Linked DNA regions of Homo sapiens: region 1 is linked to region 2. Evidence: fine-mapped expression QTL. A gene starts in region 2. The other region holds a variant in brackets. All regions are shown on one strand. Distances are from middle to middle. Region 1 has its middle 32 kb from the start of ALS2CL. Region 2 holds the start of ALS2CL (ALS2 C-terminal like).

Evidence for each region. PIP is the estimated chance that this variant, and not a neighbour inherited with it, causes the effect.
Region 1: its variant is fine-mapped to the expression of ALS2CL in whole blood (TOPMed, PIP above 0.99).

What each region holds. Positions count from the first base shown.
Region 1 is chr3:46,657,247-46,665,569 of GRCh38, forward strand. No RefSeq gene overlaps it. Among named protein-coding and RNA genes, the nearest start is that of ALS2CL, 32 kb to the right of the region's middle. RefSeq lists enhancers at 3,549-4,144, 5,125-5,770. The variant G/A (reference allele first, on the strand shown) is at 4,016.
Region 2 is chr3:46,688,573-46,696,895 of GRCh38, forward strand. It overlaps ALS2CL (ALS2 C-terminal like), which reads right to left and starts at 5,107. Exons shown (of 26, transcript NM_147129.5): 1 at 5,071-5,107; 2 at 766-893. The coding sequence starts at 868. It also overlaps a transcript of TMIE not described here. RefSeq lists enhancers at 3,671-4,462, 6,044-6,833, 7,923-8,323 and silencers at 4,907-5,201, 4,932-5,181, 5,332-5,411.

The DNA of each region.
Region 1 (8,323 bases), 31 kb before region 2:
GTTAGGAGCCAGGCCATAGAGCAGAAGGTGAGCAGTGGGTGAGTAAGCAAAGCTTCGCCTGTATTTACAGCCACGCCCCATCACCGGCATTACCACCTGAGCACCTCCTCCTGTCTGATCAGCAGCATTAGATTCTCATAGGAGTGCAAACCCCATTGTGAACTGCGCATGCGAGGGATCTAGGTTGCAGGTTCCTTACCATAACCTAATGCTTGATGATCTGTCACTGTCTCCCATCACCCTTTGATAGGACCATCTCTAGTTGCAGGAAAACAAGCTCAGGGCTCCTACTGACTCTGCATTCTGGTGAGTTGTATAATCATTTCTTTACATATTACAATGTAATAATAATAGAAATAAAGTGCACAATAAACGTAATGCGCTTGAATCATCCCGAAATCACCTCCCCACCCCGCCCCTAGTCTGTGGAAAAATTGTCTTCCACAAAACTGGTCTCCGGTGCCAAAAAGGTTGGGGGCCACTGTTTTAGAAGACTCATATGGCAGAATTATAGATTACAAGGTTCAATAAATGCCAGGATTGTGGCTGGAAAGGAGGGTAGAAGTCAATTCCAGAAGGTGCCTTTCCTGTTGTGCAGTTGACTCAGAACTGGGATGCTAGAAAGTTGCCCTGTGATTTGTGGAGGGAATCCACACTAACCACAGGAAATCACCCATGACATTTGCAAGACAGAAGGAAGGAGAAACTGAACTAAGGGGTGGTAGCAGAACTGGACAGGAGGTAGTGCAGAGAAGAATTATTTACATGTTGAACCAATGGAGTTAAGAACTAAATGCTGGACCTCTTTTTTTTTTTTTTTTGGTGGAGATGGGATCTCACTATGTTGCCCCAGCTAGAGTGCAGTGGTGCAAACAAGGCTCACTGCAGCCTCAACCTCTTGGGCTCAAGTAATCCTCCTGCCTCAGCCTCCTGAGTAGCTGGGACTACAGGCACATGCCACCATGCCCAGCTAATTTTTAAAATGTTTATACAGATGAGGTCTCACTATGTTGCCGAGGCTAGTCTCAAACTCCTGAGCTCAAGTGATCCTCCCACCTTGGCCTCCCTAACTGCTGGGAACCACTGCACCCAGCCTACTGGGCATTTTTTAATGCCCAGCCTTAGCAAGGCATCTGCCTCACAGCAGACACTCAATGACTAGCACCTGGTGAATTTAGTCCAGTCGCGCCTTGATCTCCACCCAGCAGGTTATCAGTATTTGACTATACTAAACATTTCATTTAAAGAATGCTTTGAGCCCGGGCATGGTGGCTCATGCCTGTAACCCCAGCACTTTGGGAGGCCGAGGCGGGCAGATCACCTGAGGTCAGGGGTTTGAGACCAGGCTGGCCAACATAGTGAAATCCCGTCTCTACCAAAAATACAAAAATTAGCTGGGCATGATGGCGCACACCTGTAATCCCAGCTACATGGGAGGCTGAGGCAGGAGAATCACTTAAACCTGGGAGGCAGAGATTGCAGTGAGCTGAGATTGCGCCACTGCACTCCAGCTTGGGTGACTGAGACTCTGTCTCAAAAAAAAAAAAATGCTCTGCATGCCCGCCTGTAACCAAAAATAAATATTAATTGCTGAGTTACTTTTACTGTGGAAAAACTACTCATCTGCTTGACATTGCTCTTTCACCAAGGGGCATTCTGTTGTTTCACCTCTGCAATTTAAAATTTCTAGTGAAATTAAATTCTGTTACTTGTTGTGGCTGTGTACCATCTTAAACTATCATTAATCACAAAGACAGATAATACCAAGGAATGATTTCAATGCCGCACCTGCAAGTGGCGGAGAACTGCAAGCTGGAATCAGCCTCTGCCGAGGTGCAGGCCCCAAGAGACAGCAGCATCTGTGTAGAAACCAAACACATGCATTTTTTTCCTCTGTGTTTATAGAATTGTCTTCCGTTTACGGTCATTGATGCTGGATTTCCACGTACACAGGGATATGAAGTTTCCCATTTTAACAGATTCCCATTTTTAAGTAGAAGTATAGAAAAACTCTAAAAGTTAAATGATGAATAGTAGGTTTGGCAAGGACTGTTCCGTTTACCTAGTGCTGCACTAAAAAGCCATCCCAAAACAATGGCTTGAAACAATAGCCGAGGTTTATTTTGCTCAGGAATCTGGGGCTGACTGGGCTGCTAGGCAGCTGTTGCCTGGGGGCATCTCTAAGGTTCCAGTCCATGGAGGCTGCAGTCACACGCGAGTGTCCTCACTCACGCGCCCAGTGTCTGGGCTGGTAAGACTCCAGGCACTGGATGCTGGATAGGCTGGGCCTATTGGGTCTCTCTCTCTGAGGCGTCCCCACACAGCAGCTCAGGGCTGCCAGACTCCCAGCATGATGGTTAAAGGCTCCCAGAACAAGGATCCCAGGAGAACTGGCAGGACCTATGTGGCTTTCTATAAGCAGCCTCAGAAGGCACTCGGCTCTCTCCTGCTGTAATCATTAAGGGCTGTGGTTTAAGGTGAGGTTCGTGGCCTCTGTGTCTTGATGGGGAGAGTGTGGAAGAATTGGTGGATATGTTTGAAAGCCACCACCAGGGCAGAAAAAAAAATACTGAGAGGCTGAACATTAGGGGATATGGGGAAATGCCCCTGCAGGTTTTGAAAGTCTTTCTCACTTGGGGTTTGCCTGACCTCCCTGCAACTCATTTCCCAGCTCTCTGCATTCTGGAAAGTCATGCCCTTCTACCTCTGGGCCTTTGACTCTGCCTTCCCCCCTGCCAGGCAAGCCATTCCTCCCTCTGGCAAATTCATTCTTCAAGATCCAGTTTCATGGTGCTGTCTGCTAAGACAGGGCCCCCACCTCTGCCCTCTTCCTGCTGTGACCACACAGACTAGGCATGTTTTGCAGACTCTTTCTCCAGAAGGACCGGGCACACAGGAAACCAATGACCACTCACTTCCCCAAGGTCATCTTTCCTCAGAGGCACTGGCAAGACTCACTGTGTAAGCACAGGTTGATTTCAGCTCACCTGCTGTCATCCGTGCTTGTCCCTGGGGATGCCTTGGCCAAACCTGAAAGAAATGCAGGAACCAGTGATGAATAGTCCTGTGCTAGTGCCTGAGACAGGCCGGGGGCCTCCTGCAGCCACTTGTCCGCACTGCTCATGTACAGATGCGTGGGTGCACCTGCTTGCTCGTATGTCCGCCTGGTTTGGCTGCATGACAGCAAGGTATAAAAGATCCTTTCTGGTTTGAAACAGTGGTTCCCTGAGGTCAAGGTATCTCCCATGTGCCTGCTGGCCCCTTTCTCTCTCCTCCAGTGCTCTCTGCCGCCCCTTAAAAGGGTCCACCACATTTCCCACGAGGATCAAAGCAATTGTGTGGGAGAGAAGAGCTTGCCTCTGAAGGCAGGCCTTGGAGATGGCCTCTTATTGATGGTCCTCACCCCTTCCTCATGGTCCTGTGCTAACCAGGCCACACAGACCGAGTCCTCACTGCACCAGGCACCGCTGCCCCAGCTCCAGGCTGCCACCCTCTGGGCTCCAGCAGCTGGGGGTGCAGAGAGCACCTGGCTCCTCAGGACACAGAGGAAGCACCTCAATGCTCCCCTGGGCAGCTCAGCCATGCAGGTCCTTTCAAGCTATCAGAGCAGGGAAAGATGTCACTGTCCCCAGAGGAGACAGTGGGCAGGGTGCATCTGTCCCAGCCATCAGCAACCTCCACCCAAAGGCACCCCATGCACTCCAGTTAGCTCTGTCTTCACATGCCCTGGCATGAGCTGCAGCACTGCTCTGAGCTCCGGGAGCCAAGGAAGACAGCCAAATCCCCTGGGGCACTAGGTCACATGGCCCTGCAGCTCGGTCCCCGTTGCCCAAGCTCTGACTTCCCACTCCTGTTCCCTGCCCTCCAGGAAAAGCCACATGTTATACTCACCCTCACCTGCACCTCCCTTCACCCCTGGGTCTGGAATTGCTGGTGGGTTCAGGGATGAAGGATTTCCCACTGAGCAGACCTTGGGTGTGGACTTGAAGCTTCAAACCCTCCTTGCTCACTTCTC[G/A]GCTTAGTGCTGGGGCAAACAACCTGAAAACCGATCTGAGTCTCCAGGAGTGCTGCCCTCCCCCACTCCACCCCCAACACAGAGGGGCCCAGTGGGTCTTATTTCCATTGGAAATTTCACTGCTGGGTGGTTTAGAGTCCTTGTCATTCTCTTCCCTGTCCTAGCTCATGGATGTGTGTTACTGTTTCAGTTCGGAGCAGGGTCCTTAAAGGGGCAGGGTCATGGCTCCCCAGCCTCAGGGGTGTCATCAATAATGTTCTGGGCCAGGTGTGGTAGCTCATGCCTGTAATCCCAGCACTTTGGGAGGCTGAGGTGGGTGGATCACTTGAGGTCAGGAGTTCAGGACAAGCCTGGTCAACATGGTGAAACACTGTCTTTACTAAAAATACAAAAATTATCCAGGTGGTGCATGCCTGTAATCCCAGCTACTTGGGAGGCTGAGACAGGAGAATCACTTGAACCTGGGAGGCAGAGGTTGCAGTGAGTAGAGATCATGCCATTGCACTTCAGCCTGGGCAGCAGAGTGAGACTCTGTGGCAAAAGAAAAAAAAACAGTGTTCTGAATTATTCAAGCCCTGTCCTGGAGTCAAACTGAACTCTTCCCTCTAACTCCCCAACTAGCGCCACACTGAGGAGCAACAGCTGCCTTGAATCCCCCGCTGTTCCATTCACTAAACTAGATTAGATGGGGAGGGGGAGGGCATAGAAGGTGCTGGGGAGCTGCAGCCTCATTGTTGTGATTCATTCACTTAATGGATCTTGTGCAGAGCACAGTTCAAGGCCCTGGGGATGAAGTAGTGACCAAGACAGAGGAGGCCTCTCCCTGCCCTCCCCAGGCACCCAGTCCAGCAAGGAGTGGGGGATTTAGCCAGGAGAGGGTGTCAGTGAGGACAAAACGTGCTCAATGACAGGATACAGGGAGAGGGCAGAGGCGGCAAACCGCGGGTCAGGGAAGCCTCTCGTGGGAAGCACTGTTTAGCCTGGAACCTGAAGGACAAGAATGAGACTGCTCCAGGGAGAGTGAGGGCCAGGAGGAGGACACCAGTGCAGGGCCATGAGGTGGGAGAGGCTCAGGGGGCTCCAGGAGCATCAAGACAGGTGGCAAGAGTGACGAGAGCACAGAGAGGAAAGGGGGTAGGAGTCATGAGGGGCTGGCAGAGGGATTCCAGGGCGACCCCAGGGACCGGGCCTGTGAGTCAAGAGAAAGAGGCTGGATTGATTCTAGGCACTGGGAAGCCATGGAGGGATGTCAGCAGGGTTGATTTCACGAAGCTGCCTCTGGCTGCAGTGTTGGCACCTGGCTGGGATGGGGGCGGGAGAGGCAGCAGGAAGACCAGGGAGGAGGCTGGGGCAGGAGGTGTCCAGCTGGGAGGGGACCAGGGCCTGGAGAAGGGTGTGCATGGGCACGGAGAGAAGCAGATGTGCCCAAGACCCATGTTGCCTTCGGGCTGACAGAGGTGCTGATGGAACAGAGGTGTGGACGAGGAGGGAGGAATCCCAGATCAGAGTGCTCAGCACTGAGGGGTGCACTCTCAATCAGGGCCTGACCAGGGATGAAGGGAAGCTCTGAAGATGGGTGAGGGAGGGTGTCAGATCTCCATTAGGAAACGGAGTGGAGAATGGTCTGTGACTCTGCACGACTCCCTGGGAATCTTGCGCGTATCCACGCAGGCCACATAAGCAAGGCTCAGCTGCGGTCCAACCTGTGTCTCGGCTGAATGCCCTACAATTCCTCCTGCAGCCAGGGGAGCTAAGACTTGGGAGAAGCCACTGAGAGGTCTTTCTCAGCTGCAGGCTACAAAATTGTTTGGCTGTAATATGGAGGCAGCTCCTAAATGGCTGAGTGACCCTCTGCTCACACTGTCATCCGATCCCTCCGGGTCAGAGTCAGACTGTGGGATGAGGGACAAGGGAGCTGACCTCCTGCCCATTTTGCTTCTGCTGTTCTTGTAAATAATAAACTGTCTAAATCCACGTGGGCTCATTGTCTCATCCCTGGCTGGATGCATGGAAGTGCGCCAAATCCACCAGCAGCTGCAGTCATGTAGCCACCCACGCTGTCGCTTGGAAATTGCTTCACAGTTTGATAAATTGGTCCCAAACGTGGGGCCAGTAAGGGTACAATGCCTTTCTGGAGAGAAGACAGAAGAGGCCCACGTGGCCGACCAAATGAAGAGATGTGGAAGACCCCAGGATCGCCCAGGCATGCTGTCACCCAGGGAGGGTGAGAGGAGGGGAACAGGGTACCCCTCTGTCCTACCTCCTGAGGAATGTTTGCAGGCTGAGTAGCAAGAGGAAGAATTGAAACCAGCCAACCAAATGCTGCCCCTCCTGATGTCCAGAGAGTTCTTGGGCTCAGGGAGATGTAAAAATGAAAACAAAAACAAAACCAGACAGGATGAAATAGAGGAGGAGGCTGGGTCGGGGGCCTGGAAGGAGAGAGCAGCTCTGCACATCAGCCGATGCTGTGACTCCTGACTGCAAGGTCTGCTCCCACAGGGGAAGGGCCACAGTTAGGACAGTGGCCGGTGGGACAAGCACACACCTGGGAGCCCACCAGGCTTCACCTGCCCAGCCACTTGATGGCAGTAAAGCAGCATAGAATAGAAGAGGGCAGGGGCCACAGCACTAAAGAGCTGTAGAGGAAGAGGTGCGTAAGGAAACCATCCAGCAGCTGTGCGGACTGCCCTCCCCAGCCAATTAGTCCTGAAGAGCCTTGAAAATTATGAGTGTGCGTGGCGGACAATTACTCAGCCTGGAGCCAGTTGCAGCAGGATGCTGGCAGTCAACAAAGGTGACCCCTGGTGTTCTGAGTACAGCAGTGACTTGACAGACAGGGCCCAGCACACCCCCTCGAGTGGTAATTACTGACTTGCAGCTGGGTGTAGGTAGACACTGAGGGTAGAGCTCCCCATGCATGGTTCCTCCCAGGCAGACCCTTATAGGGTGGGTCTGGAGGAAAGACACCAACACAGTGGACACTGCCCAGCAAATGTCTGTCATCAAATGACAGGGGGACAGCCAAGAAAGGAGGAAGCCAGGCATCAATGGAATCTCCCATCAGCCTGAAAAAGTGGCAATCACCCGCCAGGGGCAGCTACCCCAGACCTGGGGTCTGCACCAGCACCTCAGGCTCCTTGTGAACTTCACCACAGCGCAGTCCCTGAGGAGGCCTGGGCCTGATTCACAGACAGATCAGCCAAGCTACAGGACCCACAGAAAACACTGATGAAAGCTGCATATGAAGAAAGAAGTCTGGCCAGGGGCAGTGGTGCAGGCTATGGTTCTTGCCCTGGAAACAGCCCCCACCAAAGTTCACAGCCAGTGGGCTGACCATGTGGTCTGGCACTTGACAATGGAACAACTGGATGTCAAGTCCCAACCCTGGTTGGGACAAACATTAGGCTTCAGATTGCACAGGGCCCAGGGCCTCTGAAAACCCAGTGAAAAGGACCCCTTGGCAGTGAACGTCAGTGAAACCAATAAGCTGACCAATTCTGCATAGCCCAGGTAAGCATCAGAGCCACCTGGATACACCATCACACGAGGCCTGGCCATCTGTCCATAGCTCAGGACTGGGGCCCACGTCAAAGCCTAGTGAGGCCAGCACATGAGGCCAAGCAAGCCTGCAAGTGTACCAGCTCCACAGTCAAGGGACAAAGTGACTCCAGTGCACACAGCGACCTGTGCACTCCAGTACACTGACCTGGCCAGTCCTGGAAAACAGACTCCACGGACCCCTTCCCCTTCTGCCAGGAGCACCACTGGGTGCTGACGACCGTAGATGCAGCAATTCCCATCTGCGGGGAACGTGGGCCGTGCTGCTTGACAAGTCCTAAATGTACTGCTGCATATCTGAACTCCTGGAGCACATCCAGTCGGACAATGATGCCGCCCTCATAGCCAAGAGAACCAGCAATAGGCAGCTATCTGAGGGCTGCTGTGTGGGACATTTCATGTCGCCTACCACCCACAGACAGCAGGTGACTTAAAAGATGAACTAAAAAAAAAAAAACTGAAAAGATAAGTGGACTCTAATTGTGGCAATTCTCCAGGAAGGTACCATTCATTTAAATAAAATATTTAGTTATGAGGTAGGGAGGGGGAATAAGAAAAGACCCACACTGGCTGTGAGAGACCCTGCTGCATAATTCATCCTCCTCACTCTTCTCTGCCCACCTCCATCCCTGCATGGAGGAACCCGGGCTACTGACCCGTGGGCTGCAAGGTGGGGGTTGGTGTGGGAGATGCTAATCCGGTCACTCTTACCTCCTGGCTCTGCGTGCGAGCGCTGGGCAGTTGTGGATA
Region 2 (8,323 bases):
GAACTAAGTACATACACGAATTCCCCCCTGGCTCTGGGCCTCCTCATCCTGGACTACTCAGATCCAGAATGTGAAGTCCACAGGGTCACACAGTCCTCTGCCATTTCACAGATGCACAGAGGCACCTGTCCAAGGCCTCACAGGTGAGAATTAAACTGGAAGTAAAACCTAGGCATCCTGTTCCAGTCAGTCTTGTTCCCCTCCCGGCACCATCAGGTGCCCTAGGTGGGAGCAAGATGAAAATTCAAGCAAAGGGCAGTTTCCAGTTTTTTACCCTGGGAAAGGAGGAATTCCATCTCTTTGTACAGCCTGGTCTGGGCTACAGGTAGGTTCATGGCCTGGCCCCTCAGCGTTCCTTTAAAAAAGGAGCAGTCAGACTTGGCGCAGTGGCTCATGCCTATAATCCCAGCAATTTGAGAGGCTGAGGCGGGCAGATCATTTGAGGTCAAGACTTTGAGACCAGCCTGGCCAACATGGTAAAACCCGTCTCCACTAAAAATATGAAAATTAGCCAGGCGTGGTGGCAGGCACCTGTAATCCCAGCTACTCAGAAGGCTGAGGCACAAGAATCGCTTGAACCTGGGAGGCAGAGGTTGCAGTGAGCCAAGATCGCACCACCTGCATCAGAAGATGCTGATACCAGGTGTCACCACTCCTATTTGAGGTTGAGAAAGCTGTGGCTCAGCAAGTCCAACAAGGTAGGTCTCCTGTCCCTGGGATCATTCCTCGGTGCCCTTCCCTCCCCACTAGAAAGCCTAGACTCACCGGCTGGGAGCAGGGGCTGGAGGACAAGGCTGTTGACATGGGCGAGGGTGGCTGAGAAGACCTCCTCCAGCCGCAGCAGAGCTGCCTCCTCAGGGTTGCACATGGCCAGGTGCCGGACTCAGGGCCTCCTAGGTAGGGCACAGGTTACAGCTAGATAGCACAGACAGGAGCAAGGCCAGTGCCCATCCTCTCAGGCAGGGTGCCCAGAAGCAAGGTCCATGACCACCCACATCAGAACTGAGCAGTGAGCCCAGATCGCCTCAAAGGGGAGTTCCTGGACTGGCCACTGACCTCTGCCCTGCTCCCTGCCTAGGCCCAGCTGAGGGGTCCCTGAAGGAGAGAGAGAGCTCAGAGCTGCCAAGGGAAGCAACCCTTTCTTCCCCAAAGGGTAGATGTTCTTTAAGCCCAGTTTGGCCTGCTCATTCCTCTGCTCAAATATCCACCATGGATCCCAAGTGCCCAGGATAGTATTAGTAGTGCCCTGGTCTTAGCCTCCTTTCCATCAAGTCTCCCTTCAGGGATTCTGCAGTCTCTATAAACAGGGTCATACTGTCAGAGGATCCCAGCCCTGTCCTCTAGCCCATGGTTCGGGACTCCCTGTCACCCAACCAGGCTGTGTAAGCAAGGAGAGTTTTGGAGGTATGGGGGAGTCCGGAGGCCTCCTGCTAGAGCCACGAATGATGGGCAAGAAATGAAAAGGAAGACAGGACCCAGCAGGCAAGTGGAGGAACCCTGAGAGTAAAGGCTCATGGGTGTGAGGGCCCAGCCTCTGAGGGCAGCCCACCAAGCAGCACCCCAAAGGACCACAGCTTCACTGTGCCTCAGTCGGCCGTGGACAGCCATGGAGGACTTTAGAGCAAGGTAATGATGGGATCCAAAGTCACATTTGGGGAAATAAATGTATGACAGTTGTAGAGGAGATAGTGCCAGGCAGTGAGAGAGAGTTCAATGTGGATGGGAGCCTGGACCCTCCATGGTCCCCTAACCAGACAGAGGGATCACTGATCACAACCATCCACCCTGAAGGGGTGCCTGCTGGATGGGTGGGGGCCCTTGGGGTGGGCAGGTGGGCTTGAGCCTTGAGATTTCCTGCCCTGGAGTGAGGGACCTTCCAATCAGGCAGGAATCACCTGGGAATGCAGTGTCCTGCCTAAAGGGAGGGGTGAAGAGAGGCCTGGGCTCAAACCTACCCCCACAGCCAGGCTACAGGCTCTACTCCAACAAAGCCCTCCCCTACCAGACCCTGGTACCCTCACTTGGCAATGTTCATCTGCCCAAATGACCTGATCAGGTATCTGGGGCGGAGAGTTAGAGGGTCTTTTAGCCCAAGACCCGCAGACTGTCTCTCTCCTTGTCTCTGACACGCTGAGGCTTTGGAGTTAGCCAACCTGTGTGGGGCAGGGGACAAAATCAGGGCAGCCAACGATGGGCAGGTGACACAGGCAGACCCAAAAGGGTGAGTGGGAAGGGGTCTCAGCCCTCCCCTCTCCACCCTGCCCCGAGAGTGCCATGCGGGCATCCCAGGCCCCTGGCAGAGCCTACAACTCCCAGGGAATTGGCTCTGGAATGGAGTGGGGCGGGTCCCTCAGAGCTCTGGCCAAAGGCCCAGGCCAGGCATTCCTGCCCCACCTTTCCTGCTACTGCTGCTTCGAGAGGGTGAGGCTGCAGAGAGAGAGGCAGGAAGGGGAAGCCACCAGACACCCAGCTGCAGCTTCTGTGCTGCAGCTTCTTCTCCCTCTGTGGGCCCCTGAGGCAGACCCAGGCCCCCAGGACACAGGGGGCTCCAGGTCAGCTCAGGCAGACAAGGAAAGCCCAGCCAAGGGAATAGGGGTGCAGCCAGGCCCACCTAACTCTCACCCGTATCTCCCGAAACTGCTGGAATGGAAAGGCGCTTTGGGGGTGACCTTTTCACTCTCAGCTGGCAGTCAGCTGGGGTCTAAGCTAAGAGGTGAGGATATCCAAGCCTGGTTGGGAAGGTAGAAGAAAGGGTGAGGCTAGGATAGGAGATGCAGACTAGGAACCAGATCAGTGCACGTTGAAAAGATACTGCAGTAAATAACTCGCTGCTAGGAAGACTTGAACACCAACATCCCTACACTCTCCGGGGGGCCAGCACCATGACCCCAGCCGACACCATACCCTGGCAAGGAGCTCTCTGACCCTAGAGATAGCCTCTCCTCCTCAGGCTTCCTGTCCCTCGTCCCCACTGCCCAGTCTCAGCTGCTCCCCCAGGAGCAGCCCTCACCTGGCTGCTCAGCCCTGGACATGCTTCAACTTATCCACAGCCTTACTCCTCTCTGTACCTCAGCCACCCCTCTACGAAATGGGGGTTCAACCAGATCACAGCATTTTTTTCTTTTTATTTGTTTGTATTTCTTTCTATTCTTTTTTTTTTTTTTTTTTAGAGATGGGATCTCACTATGTTGACGAGGCTGGTCTCAAACTCCTAGCCTCAAGTGATCAACCCATCTTGGCCTCCCAAAGTGCTGGGATTACAGGCGTGAGCCACTGCGCCCAGCCAAAGAGGATCACAGCTTTTCAAACTACTTAAGTCTCCCCTCAAAAGGACAAACAGGTGGAAGGGGGCTTCTCTGGGTGTGGGGATCTGGTCCTTAGACTCCCCACCCCACAAAGCAGCCTATGACTCCGGGGGTGAGTCCTCCAGACTCAAGTTGGCAACTGTTAATCTGGGAGTCTTCCACATCTGTGGCCCCAAAGGGATCTATAACCCTGGGAAACTGAGTCACACCACCCAGAGGAACGGGCAGAAGTTAAGCATGGCTGGTGAGGCAGTGGGTTGGGGGAAGGCCGCAGTGGAAGCTGGGATTCTGGTTAGGTGACCCTGAGGGACCCAGCTCCCAGGCTAGGGAGTCTGGGGCTTCATCCTGGAAGTGATGAGGAGAGTGTAAGTGCAGGGGTGAGGCAGCGTGAATGTGCATGAGTGTGCACGTTTGCAGGGCAGGAGGAGGAGGTGCTGAACCTTAATATGAGGAGGATCCTGCAGGAGTACCCCCCTCCCCAACCCCTGTCCCATCCCTAACCTTCCCCCTTCCAGTCAAGGGCATAGCTTCCTCACCCTCTCCCTCCCTCCAGTTCAAAGGTTCCTTAGTGACAGGCTGTGCCTAATGTACAGATGGGGAAACTGAGGCCCAGGAACAATGGGAGGGTCCAGAGACCCTTGTGTAGAACTTGTGCAGGGCTCAGACCCAGACTTCTGGCTCCAGCCCACCAGGTTCACCTAGCTAGATGGCTCAGAGAGGGTGGGCAACTCACCTGAGGCACAGAGCAAGATCCTGACGGGCCCTGCCTCACAGCTGTCCTCAGGCAGCCCTGATGCTCACCACGGGGTGCGGTGGGGTGGGGCAGGGTGAGGACAGAACTGGCCAGTCACGGCGTGCCCAGGTGAGTCAGCGGCTGCCCCTGTGGCGCTCTAACCAGTAGCCAGACCTGGTCTCTCCTCTGCATTCCTGGCCTCTGTCCACGCTAGGTCCCTCCCGGGCAGGGTCACTGGGGCCTTCCCTGTCCTCTCCCAGGCCTGGCTCCTTAGGCCCCTGACACACCTTGTCGTGACACTCACTCACTCTGGTATTTCCTGGTCTGAACAGGCAGGGAAGTTCTGCCTGCTGTGGAGGCTTTTTCATGGGCTGCCGTGGCAGCCCCTTCGTTGTCTGGTGCCCAGTGGGGGAGAGTAGAGACACGCACTGCCCCAGGGAGGGGGCGCTGAACTGTCACACCTGATCCCTCAGTCTCATGCTCGCCTCTCCCCGCTGCACCCTTCCTCGGCCCCACCATGGCTACAAGCCTCTTGTCCTAGACAAGCACCCCTCCCTGCTGTCGCATATGTCCCAGCTTCCCTTCCTCTCCCTGCCCAGGCACACACTCAGTCGCTGGAGTTTCCCAGACCCGAGCTCCTGTTCCGGCCGCCAGGCATTTGCCATGCCGCTCCCATGCGAAAAGGCCACCTCCTGGAATCCCGGGTCGGGCCCTTCCGCCCTAACCAGCCGGCGTCACCTCCTCCTGGCAGTCTCTCCTGCTGGCTGGGGCCCCGTGGCCCTGCCACCACGGCTCAGGTCAGGCCCGGGGCGCTGCCCCGAACCCAAGCAGGCTAGCAGCCAGGCAGGGAGGACGACGCTGTGAGCGGGGTATCTTACGAGGGACTCGGACGGCCGGGGGATGACTGCCGCCGGGACCAAGGAGCTGGGCGGGGACCGCAGCAGCCGAGGAGGCGGGAGCCCCCACCTGGACGAGCTAAGCGTGGAGCGCAGACACCCGTCCGCAGACGCGCGCCCTTCGTCGCGCCCTTACCTGAGCGCTGTGGTTGCCCCGCGCCGGGACTGCCTGTGCGGCTCCTCGCTCGCACCCCCACCCTGCCCCCTGCCAGTCCCGCCCCCTGCCAGCCCCGCCCCCTTCGCCCAGCCCCGCCCCGCCCCGCCTCCGGGTGTTGCTCTGGAGTTGCGGGGGCCACGGGCGGGCCACCGAGGAGCTGGCGCGCGGTATTGATCCGTCCCGCCGCCCCAAGCCTCTCCTGAGGCCTCCCTCTGGCGTCCCCCGGGATCCGGAGGCCCCTGGGACCCGGCGCGGGGAGGAAAAGTGGGAGTCTTGACCCCTCCGCCCCCTACGCACCCACGCGCACACTCAGGCTCGCCTCTCGCGCCCCGCTTCCCCTGCAAGGCTCCGAGGCCGCCGTGCCACCACCTCGCCCCGCCAGTCAGTCGCTCTGCGAGCCTGTGGTGCAGCCCCGTGACCTCCCGGGTCTGCCCTGAGTCACAGAAGCCAGCACACGCGGAGCGCTGTGTGGGTTCGTGGAACTTGGAGCCTGTAGAGGGGTATACTGAGGCGCCCTGCGGCCCCCTGGGCTGGGTGTCCACGGCCGGCCGCCCCTCCTGTGCGACCTTGGGGAAGTCCCCTTTCCTCCCCACTCCTGAGTCTCAACAGGCCTAGTAGAGCATGAAGCCGGCCGCGTGTGCTTTGTGCGAAGGCCTGAGACCTTGGAAAGGGTGGCTGAAGACTTATCTGGGACAGACCCCCCGGGAGCGGGAGGGAACTTAGTTCAAACCTGTAACAAAGAAGCCCCCCGTCAGCAGCCTGATTCCCCCTCTGGCCACCAGGTTAGTCACCCATTGCTCTCAGTGGCACTCAGGTTCCAGTGAGGGGGAGGCTCAGGGTCCAAGGCGGCCGTGGAAGAGCAGAAAGGGTGGCCCACCAGCCCCCTACTCAGCCCCCTACTGAGGAGGTGGGAGGCATCCCCCAACCTGCCAGGCTGAAGAGACCCCCAGTGGAGGTAAGTAGGGGCCTGGGGCCTGCCAAGCTCATCCCCTGGCTCCCTTGGGTTGTTGCGAGGTGGGAGTTTACTGTCTGCCAAGCTGCACATCACCCCTTGGAGGGTTTCCAGCCTGGGACCCTTGTCTGAGTGACTGCAGGTCCCAGTGACCTCACCCTTTTGCCCCACATTGCTCTCCTCCTGGGTCCCAATCCTGCAGAGCCGCCCCTTCCTGCTTCTCCATCCCTCCCCACATTGCCAAAGCCCGCCCTAGCTCTGGCCTCCCCTTTTCCAGCCTTGTTTTCTTGCCCCCTTCTGCACCCCCTGCTGCCTGAGGGGCTCCACTCCCAAAGGCCTTGCTCCTCTGGTCCCTGCCTGCTAGAGGTGTTGCTGTGTTGGTGGGTGGGGGCTACCTCAAGGAGGCTTCTGGTGAGGTGTCCCTCTGGCCCTCTGGGAAAGCCTCCCCTCCCCATGCCCTCCACCCCCAGGCTCCGGACCTTGGCCCCCACTCCCCTTCACAGCCCTGTTGGCCTGCGGGACTGTCTGCTGGGGCACTTGGCTCCCTGAGTCTACAGCACAGCCTGGCAGAGCCACCGCCCCAGCAGGTGGAATGAACTGAGGCTTCAGGTTCTAAACAGGCCTCCAAGGTCTTCCCTGTGGGGATCCTTTGTGCCTGTGGGGCAGTGGGAGGTAGCGGTACATTCTGGAAGAGCTGGTATGGGGCCTTGTGCTGCTTTCCTCTTGCTGTGTGATCACAGGCAGTGTGTGGCCTCTCTGTAACGTAGTGCCCCTGCTGGTGAAATATCTTACCTGCGCCTCCTTCTCGGGGTTATGTGGGACTCTGAGAGGAGGGGTATGGTGGGTTCAAGGGGCTCCTTCAGGGATGAGCACGGTTTAGAGGATCTATGGGTCCCCTAGAGCATGGGTGTGGGCCACCAGGCATCCCTGGGGCTTAGGAGGGAGGCAAGGGCTGGAGAGTGGCCATGGCCTCAGGAGGAGCATATGGCCTCACCACTTGTGACGAACAGGGACAGGTGGGGCAAGGCCCCGAGCAGGACAGATCTGATCTTATGCTAGGTGTCTCTGGGCCTCACTTTCATCATCTGCACGTGCAGCTGAGGGAAGGCAGTGCTGCCTGGGCTCGAGCAGGAAGGGAAGGGCTCCCACGGCTTCCTCCCTAGAGCACAGACTTCCTGTTCAGCCACATCTAGGGGAATAGAAAGGCTGACTGAGCTCTGGGCAGCAGACCAGTCCTTCCCCCATTCCCTGGGTGACCTCATGGGCATTGCAAGCCCAGTTTTCCTATCTGCTAAATGGGGCAAGACCTGCCCAGCCTCTCTTACAGCTCATTCTTGGCTTGGGGCCAGGTAAGGCCTCTGGTAGTGCCCAAAGGACAGCCTCTGCTGAGTCCACCTGCCTTCAGTCCCCTGCAGCACAGCCAAGGGCCCCTAGCCAATCCCACCACAGATGTGTATACCCACCCACACCACTCCCACACCCGCTGCACACAGATACAATTCCACAGTCAGGGAATGGGTGGGTCCCTGTGCCACATGGACCCATCTACCATTGAACCCACTGGTAAGGACTCCAAGTTGCACAACTCTAGTGGCAGCCCTGGGTATGCGTGTGCAGATCATGTGCCCATCCACAGGGACACAGACCTGCACACTACTCCAGGGAACACACACGTATGTGAATGGCACCTGTGATTCTGGAGCCATTGAGACTCATACCCAGCCACACACAAAGCTGCATGCAGAATGCACATGCACTCCCATGTGCACCAGTGCCTTAGTACACAAAGCACATGCTCAAGCACACGCAGGTCTGACACAGGCCTGGCCCAGCCCCACAGCTATTCTGAGCTGAGCCTGGGGCTGATGAGGTCAGGGACAGCCAACTCCCAGCAGGCCCCAGCTGCTGTGGCACAGGCCTAGGCTGCCCAGCTCCCACCCCCACCCTAGGCTGAGTCCCTGGATCCTAGCCTAGCTTTGTGACTGGGGGTCCTCATTTCCTACCCCCAGCTCCCCCAGAGCTAAACTTTAAGCCCTGGGATTTCAGGCTCCAGGAGAGAACATTCCACAGGGTCCTCTGGCCACTACCCCCTGCCTTGCTCACAGCTTCCAGTTCAGAGGCCCTGGAGGCTGGACTGGGTCCCTACAGGAAACTCACAGGAGCTAAAATTAGTACAGGAGGGAGAAGCAGGGATCTGCAGACCAGCATTCACAGCACCATGTATGGAGGGGACACTGTCTTCCAGGGAGCAAGGGTGGGGGACTTGGAGTCCAGAGGTCC